Homo sapiens: one gene and its partner. The protein of the gene in region 2 purifies or fractionates together with the protein of the main gene of each other region. This does not show direct contact. Each region holds a gene or a part of one and is shown on either strand. Other genes may lie near its edges.

Region 1 (3,428 bases), on a different chromosome or scaffold from region 2:
CCCCTAAGAAGGTCTTCCCTGGTTCTGGCTTGCAGGGATATCAGGAGTATGCAGGTGACTCCCAAAGCAGAAAGGTCATAAAGGACAAGGGCAGGTTAGATGGGTCCATTGAGAGACGGAGAAGCCCCCTGCTCCTCACTGAGTTGTGGTCAGGGGCAGTGGAGAAAGGTCTGAGGTCCAAGGGGACCCCAAGTCTGAATATAACGCAGCCACAGAATGCCTGTGCTGAAGTGAGACTGCTCCAGGGAGACAAGCAGTAGCACAATGTCCCGAGTTGAGGGGTTGGGGTTGTCCTCCCCTGGCCCAGGGAACACTATGCCCAGGGCAGCCTGATGTCACAACTGGTAAGGACCACTGGAGCCTGAGTCGGGAGGAAAACAGCCTGGGTGGTCATAAAGAATGGCAGAGGGCCAGAGCAGGGATGTGGCAAGACTGACACCCTTGAAGTCACCAGAAAGCTATCCCCTTGGACTTGGGCAGAAGTGTCTCTTAATATGATGATGTATTATCATTAATAGTTGCCACCTGCTACCATGTATTGAGCACCTATTGTGTGCCAGACCTAGCACTTAGCTCTTTACATGGGTTATCTCATGTGATCATTGTAAGAACCCTAAGGAGGTTTTTCTTACTATCCTCCATTTTACAGGTAAGAAAACTGAGGCTCAAAGAGGTTAAATCAGTTGTTCCAGGTGCATAGCTTGGGCACCTAGCTTGCAAGTGACAAGGCGAGCCCAATGCCACCCACACCAGCTCTGGTTCTTTGCCTCCAGCCCTGGCTCCTTTCTCCAACCATCTTCCCTCTCTGCCCCGGGCAGGTGGGGAGAAAAGGAAGAAAGAGAGGCCCACGTCATGTGTTTCAGCTTCCCTTTCCCTCTCTGCTGGTGCCCACTGGCCCTCACACCCATTTCTTGTTGCAGGAAGGTGAACAAGTGCTACCGGGGCCGCTCCTGCCCCATCATCGTGCACTGCAGGTGGGTGGAGAGGAGATTCATCTCTCTGGTCCCACTCCCTGTGTGCGTCTCCTGTGCACATTGCCTGCCTGTCCCCTTGGTGCTAGCAAACTGCAGGCATAGTCCAAATCCAGCACACCACCTGTTTTTAATGGCCAAGACCTAAGCGTGGCATTCACAGTTTTAAATGGGTGAAGAAAAAAGAAGAAAAGTATGTGATACAAACTGTATGTGGCCCACAAAGTTGAAAATATTGACCATTGGCCCCCTATACACAAAAAGCTGGCTGAAGGCTAGAGAGGCCCATCCAATTCCCTCCTGCTGCCTCTGCTTCTGGGCTGAGCCATGGCTCTCCTCTTTGGTTGTCCCATTGCCCAAATGACACCCACAGGTCACAGACTCCCCTCTCAAGGCCCAAGTCCCAGCGTGCAGGTGCTATGAGCTTTCCTTCATCCTCGGCTCACTGTCCCTCTCCAAGCCAACCCCAACGGGTCACCCAGTGTCCTCCCCTCCCCCAGGCCTCCAGGCCTCCTCGCCTCCTCCGTCCCTCCCCCTTTCTGCTGCATCTCAAGCTAAACCTGTCACTAACTCCTGTTTCAGTGATGGTGCGGGGAGGACCGGCACCTACATCCTCATCGACATGGTCCTGAACCGCATGGCAAAAGGTAGGGAGCTTCCCCACGGTGCCCGCAGCCCCCAGGCCCTTTTTAGAGGCTCCCCAGCACACAGGGTCCTGGGAGCTCAGAAGGAGCAGGTTGTCAACCTCCAGGCTCTGCCCAGCCCTCCAAGGCTCTTTGCCTCCAGGAGGCCTCAGGTTTTCTGGGTCCTGTCCTCCTCTGGACACCCCCTGAGCAGCCCCATCCCCACCTCCATCTCCAGGAGTGAAGGAGATTGACATCGCTGCCACCCTGGAGCATGTCCGTGACCAGCGGCCTGGCCTTGTCCGCTCTAAGGTGACCATGCCTTCCTGCCCCAACCCCAGCTCCCACCCTTCCCTAGCACCCACTTCTTGGCCACCCCAGGGAAAGCAGCAGCTGCCAACCTTTCCCACCTGCTTCTGCGCCTCCTCCAGGAGGGCTCCCTTCCTCCCAGGGGACCTGCCCAGGGCCCTCCCCCCACCAAAAGCCCCCCATCTTGAGGGCAGAGCACAGGTCAGCCCTCTCCATGACCATCCTACCACTGCCCTTCCTCAGGACCAGTTTGAATTTGCCCTGACAGCCGTGGCGGAGGAAGTGAATGCCATCCTCAAGGCCCTGCCCCAGTGAGACCCTGGGGCCCCTTGGCGGGCAGCCCAGCCTCTGTCCCTCTTTGCCTGTGTGAGCATCTCTGTGTACCCACTCCTCACTGCCCCACCAGCCACCTCTTGGGCATGCTCAGCCCTTCCTAGAAGAGTCAGGAAGGGAAAGCCAGAAGGGGCACGCCTGCCCAGCCTCGCATGCCAGAGCCTGGGGCATCCCAGAGCCCAGGGCATCCCATGGGGGTGCTGCAGCCAGGAGGAGAGGAAAGGACATGGGTAGCAATTCTACCCAGAGCCTTCTCCTGCCTACATTCCCTGGCCTGGCTCTCCTGTAGCTCTCCTGGGGTTCTGGGAGTTCCCTGAACATCTGTGTGTGTCCCCCTATGCTCCAGTATGGAAGAATGGGGTGGAGGGTCGCCACACCCGGCTCCCCCTGCTTCTCAGCCCCGGGCCTGCCTCTGACTCACACTTGGGCGCTCTGCCCTCCCTGGCCTCACGCCCAGCCTCCTCCCACCACCCTCCCACCATGCGCTGCTCAACCTCTCTCCTTCTGGCGCAAGAGAACATTTCTAGAAAAAACTACTTTTGTACCAGTGTGAATAAAGTTAGTGTGTTGTCTGTGCAGCTGCAACCCAGACTCCTACGCATTTCTGTCCGCTGTGCATCTGGACTCCAGCCCCAGCCTCAGCCCGGAGCCGGTCCCTGCTGGTCTCTCAGGAGGTGCAGAGAGCACAGCAGGAGAGCGCCAGCTGCCAGTAAGGCCCTTCTAGGTGGGAACACTACGTTAGAACGAGGCTTCCTATGCAGCCAGCAGTCTCCAAGGTGCTTTACATGATGAGTCCCATTTTACAGATGGAAAGACTGAGGCACAGAACTTGCTTGTGGTAACACGTAACACAACTTGTAAGATTGTAAGGTGCAATGGCTCATGCCTGTAATCCCAGCTCTTTGGGAGGCTGAGGCAGGCAGATCACCTGATGTCAGGAGTTGGAGACCAGCCTGGCCAACATGGAGAAATCCCGTCTTTACTAAAAATACAAAATTAGCCGGCCATGGTGGCTCGCGCCTGTAATCCCAGCACTTTGGGTGGCTGAGGCAGGCATATCACCTGAGGTCAGGAGTTCGAGACCAGCCTGGCCAACATGGCAAAACCCTGTCTCTACTAAAAATACAAAAAAATTAGCCATGTGTAGTGGCGGGTACCTGTAATCCCAGCTACTTGGGAGTCTGAGGCAGGA
Region 2 (3,749 bases):
CTGTGATCCTAGCTACTTGGGAAGCTGAGGTAGGAGGATTGCTTGAGCCTGGGAGGTAAAGGCGGCAGTGAGCTGTGATCATGCCACTGCACTTCAGCCTGAGTGACAGAGTGAGACCATATCTCCAGAAAAGAAAAAAAAAAGAAAGAAAGAAAAGAAAAGAAAAAGAAATTGAGCACATTATTACAATTTAATATCTTGATTGAAGGGAAGAGGTGAGACATCAGTTTCATTCATATTAAAGAGGAAATAGGTACTGTTATGTCAATGGGAAATGAGAGGAGGAATTAAATGTAGGAAACAGAATAACAAAGAACCAACTCATAAAAAACTAAAACAACCCATATCAGACACACCTTATAATCTGTATGTCTGTGTTGACTTATCCTCTTGGAATGTGAGGAATATTCTTTATTAATTTTACTTACTGGGTTGCCAGATATAATACAGGAAGCCCAGTTAAATCTGAATTTCAGATAAACAACAAATAACTTTTTAGTATATGTCCCAAATATTGCATGGGGCATATTTATACTAAAAAACTATTTATTGTTTATCTGACATTCAAATTTCACCAGATGTTCTGCATTTTTATTTGCTAAATCTGGGCACTCTTCACTGGGCATCTTCTCAGGGCACTAACCTGCCAAATGCCAACTGCTGTGGGGCTGCTCAGAGAATATGACCTAATGACAATGGGAGATGACATGTTGCTGGCAATGAGAGAAGTGAATAAAATGTTGCATACTTGTTTTCAGGAGCTGTTCTCAAAGCTTACCACCTTTTTAGTGTGGGATTAGGTCTTCAACTTCAACTTTGTCTTCACCTTTGTCTTAAGGTCAAAAGAAGACGTTAGAGATGTCTTTGGTAGGGCATAATGTATCCTTTTAGATTGATATTTGTGGGCCATTTGTTTTACAGGGGGTTAGTCCAGGAAGTACAAGACAATGTCATTAGGCGGATAGAGTTCCATTTAAATTAAAAATAAAATCTATTGTTAGGTTTAAATGAGTCACTGCTTCATTAAGCTATCAATATTAGATAACACATATTGAATGAATGTTTCCCATAGGCCAAGCTCTGTCCCAAGCATTTCACATGTATTTGCATTTCGTGCTCACAAACTGCCTCTGACTGACTGATTTTGATTTTCTTGATTTTATGGATGAGGAGACCGAGAAGCAGAGATGATGAACTTCCCCAAGGTCACACCACTCATAAGTGGGAGAAACAAGCTAAAATTCAGGCCATCTTACTGCAGAATACTCAAAATCAAAATAAGCAAAATTTCATCTCCAGTTCTGGCACCTCACCAAAAACCAAAACACGATTTAAAAATATAAAATTTTAATAACACCACACATAAATTTCAAACTACTTTCCCTAAGTTTCTAGCTGAAGTTTTAAATGAGTGTGTTTTTAATTTATTAGAAAGTGGATTGAAGAGAAAACATTGGAAGATGAAGGAAGGCGTTTCAGTTAAACCCCAAATAACTCTGTGTTACACTGAGCTATGAAACGGCTCCTTCTAGCTCCATTTCTCCTCAGACCTAAGTGCTATTCCTGATTGTCCTTCATTGTCATTTCCAGGGAGAAATGACACCAGCACAGTGGCAGGCCTTCCAATCTGGAGCACGGTCCACACAACTTCCGAATTGGTGTTCAGTGTAAAGTGTATCGGAGTGCGGAAAATGCGCAGGGCATTGCCAACTATAGATGCTCGGAGTAATTCAGTGTATTCAGAGAACACGGTGAAACAAGGAAAACCGGCCTGACTGGGGGGTGAATTCAGCAGGGAGTAAATCTGATCGGCATCAGGTCTGCGGAAAGGAGCTGGTGAGCACGACACCACCCAGGCATTGCCTGGCTCTCTCCGCGGCGGGCTAAGTTAACCGCGGGTCCAGGTGCGGGCCATGGTCTTGGGGAGGGTGCTGGGTGCGCTCGAGCAGGCTAGCGTCGGGAGCCGCCGCTGCTAGTGAGAGGCCGGGGCCACACACGCTCCTCCCCGGTACCTCCTCCAGCATCACCAGGGGAGGAGAGGGTCGGGGCCACAAGGCCGCGCTAGGCGGACCCAGGACACAGCCCGCGCGCAGCCCACCCGCCCGCCGCCTGCCAGAGCTGCTCGGCCCGCAGCCAGGGGGACAGCGGCTGGTCGGAGGCTCGCAGTGCTGTCGGCGAGAAGCAGTCGGGTTTGGAGCGCTTGGGTCGCGTTGGTGCGCGGTGGAACGCGCCCAGGGACCCCAGTTCCCGCGAGCAGCTCCGCGCCGCGCCTGAGTGAGGAGGGGCCCCGGGGGCGAGGCGGGAGTGGGAGGAAGGGCACGGTCGCCGCGCTGGAGGTCGGGACCCCGGAGCGGCGACCGGCCGGGGTGGGCTCGCTGAGTCGCACCCGCTCTGCTGGCCGGTCCTGGGCTCACAGTCCCTGCAGCCCTCGGAAACAGCGCTAGGATCCTTGCGGGGAGAGGGAGAGGATGACGGTATTAGACACCAGTTCTTCCAAACCTTTTCCCGAAAGGAAGCAACCCTAAGAGCTCAGAGCTGGGGGGAGAATCAGGACAGGCAGGGAACACATGGAGTTTTCTTTTCTTTTTTTTCTCTCTCTCTCTCTTTCTTTCGTTCCTTCTTTCTTTCTTTTGAGGCGGAGTCTCATTTTGTCGCCAGGCTGGAGTGCAGAGGCGCGATCTCGACTCACTGCAACCTCTGTCTCCCGGGTTCAAGCAATTCTCCTGCCTCAACTTCCCGAGTAGCTGGGACTGCTGGCGTGCCGTATCACGCTCGGCTAATTTTTTTGAATTTTTAGTAGAGACGGGGTTTCGCTGTGTTCGCCACAATGGTCTCGATCTCCTGACCTCGTGATTCGCCCGCCTCCGCCTCCCAAAATGCTGGGATTACAGGCATGAGCCACCGCGCCCGCCCCGGAGTTTTCTTATCTGTAGATCTCCTACAGGGACAATCTCTCTCTCCGTCTCTCTCTCTCTCTCTCTCTCTCTCTCTCTCTCTCTCTCTCTCTCTCTCTCTCTCTCTCTCTCTCTCTCTCTCTCACACACACACACACCACTACACACCTCTCACTCTGCCTCCTCTCTCTCTCTCCCTCCGCTCTCTCTCTCACACACCCTTCTCCCTCTCTCCCTCTCTCTCACTCTCCCTTTGAGGAGTATTGCGTTTTTGGAGCCCAGTTATGCGTGGCTGCTGTAAGAACAAAACAAAGCACTCTTTGTCCTACCTGGAGCATCCCCCTGCCGGCCAGATAAGATCACAGCTGTGTCACCAAGTCAAGGGAGAGGCTCATTTTTAAAAAATTAAGCAAAATCAGAAAACAGAGAACACTGTCTTCCTCATCATCTCCTGGAGCTTGTAAGAGAAATTTCTGTCACCAAAAACGAAAAGTTCGGGCTTTTATTCATGCCTGTGGTTCTTGGGATTACTGCAGTGGTGATGAGGAAGGAGAGGTGCGTATGGCTCATAAATGGCAGCTTGCCACCTTTAAAAGGCACACGGATTCAGATTTGGGATGTGTTAACAAATCAGGCTTGCACAAATTACTTTTGATCCAAATGAGAATGCTGAGCTGGGAGACTGGTATATGGGTAGGAGCTGGAAAATGTATCCCCTGAGGTGTTGGCAATCCCAAGAGGCTCAGCACGAAACCTTGAGCTTACATTGAATTCAGAGATCTGAGCATTAAGCACTGGCCTGATCAAGAAGAAGCAGATGGCCTTCTGGTCACGAGGCACTGGTGAGCCTCCATC

What was found.
Region 1: the proteins of PLA2G7 (region 2) and PTPRN purify together in Homo sapiens (affinity purification with mass spectrometry; 3 studies listed by BioGRID and IntAct, with this or other methods). This does not show direct contact.

What each region holds. Positions count from the first base shown.
Region 1 is NC_000002.12:219,289,016-219,292,443, reverse strand, and holds the end of PTPRN (receptor-type tyrosine-protein phosphatase-like N isoform 1 precursor), read left to right. Parts: intron 1-920; coding exon 921-974; intron 975-1,553; coding exon 1,554-1,618; intron 1,619-1,832; coding exon 1,833-1,906; intron 1,907-2,146; coding exon 2,147-2,218; 3' UTR 2,219-2,821; downstream 2,822-3,428. UniProt on the Homo sapiens protein: Plays a role in vesicle-mediated secretory processes. Required for normal accumulation of secretory vesicles in hippocampus, pituitary and pancreatic islets.
Region 2 is NC_000006.12:46,733,705-46,737,453, reverse strand, and holds the start of PLA2G7 (platelet-activating factor acetylhydrolase precursor), read left to right. Parts: upstream 1-2,078; 5' UTR 2,079-2,274; intron 2,275-3,749. UniProt on the Homo sapiens protein: Lipoprotein-associated calcium-independent phospholipase A2 involved in phospholipid catabolism during inflammatory and oxidative stress response.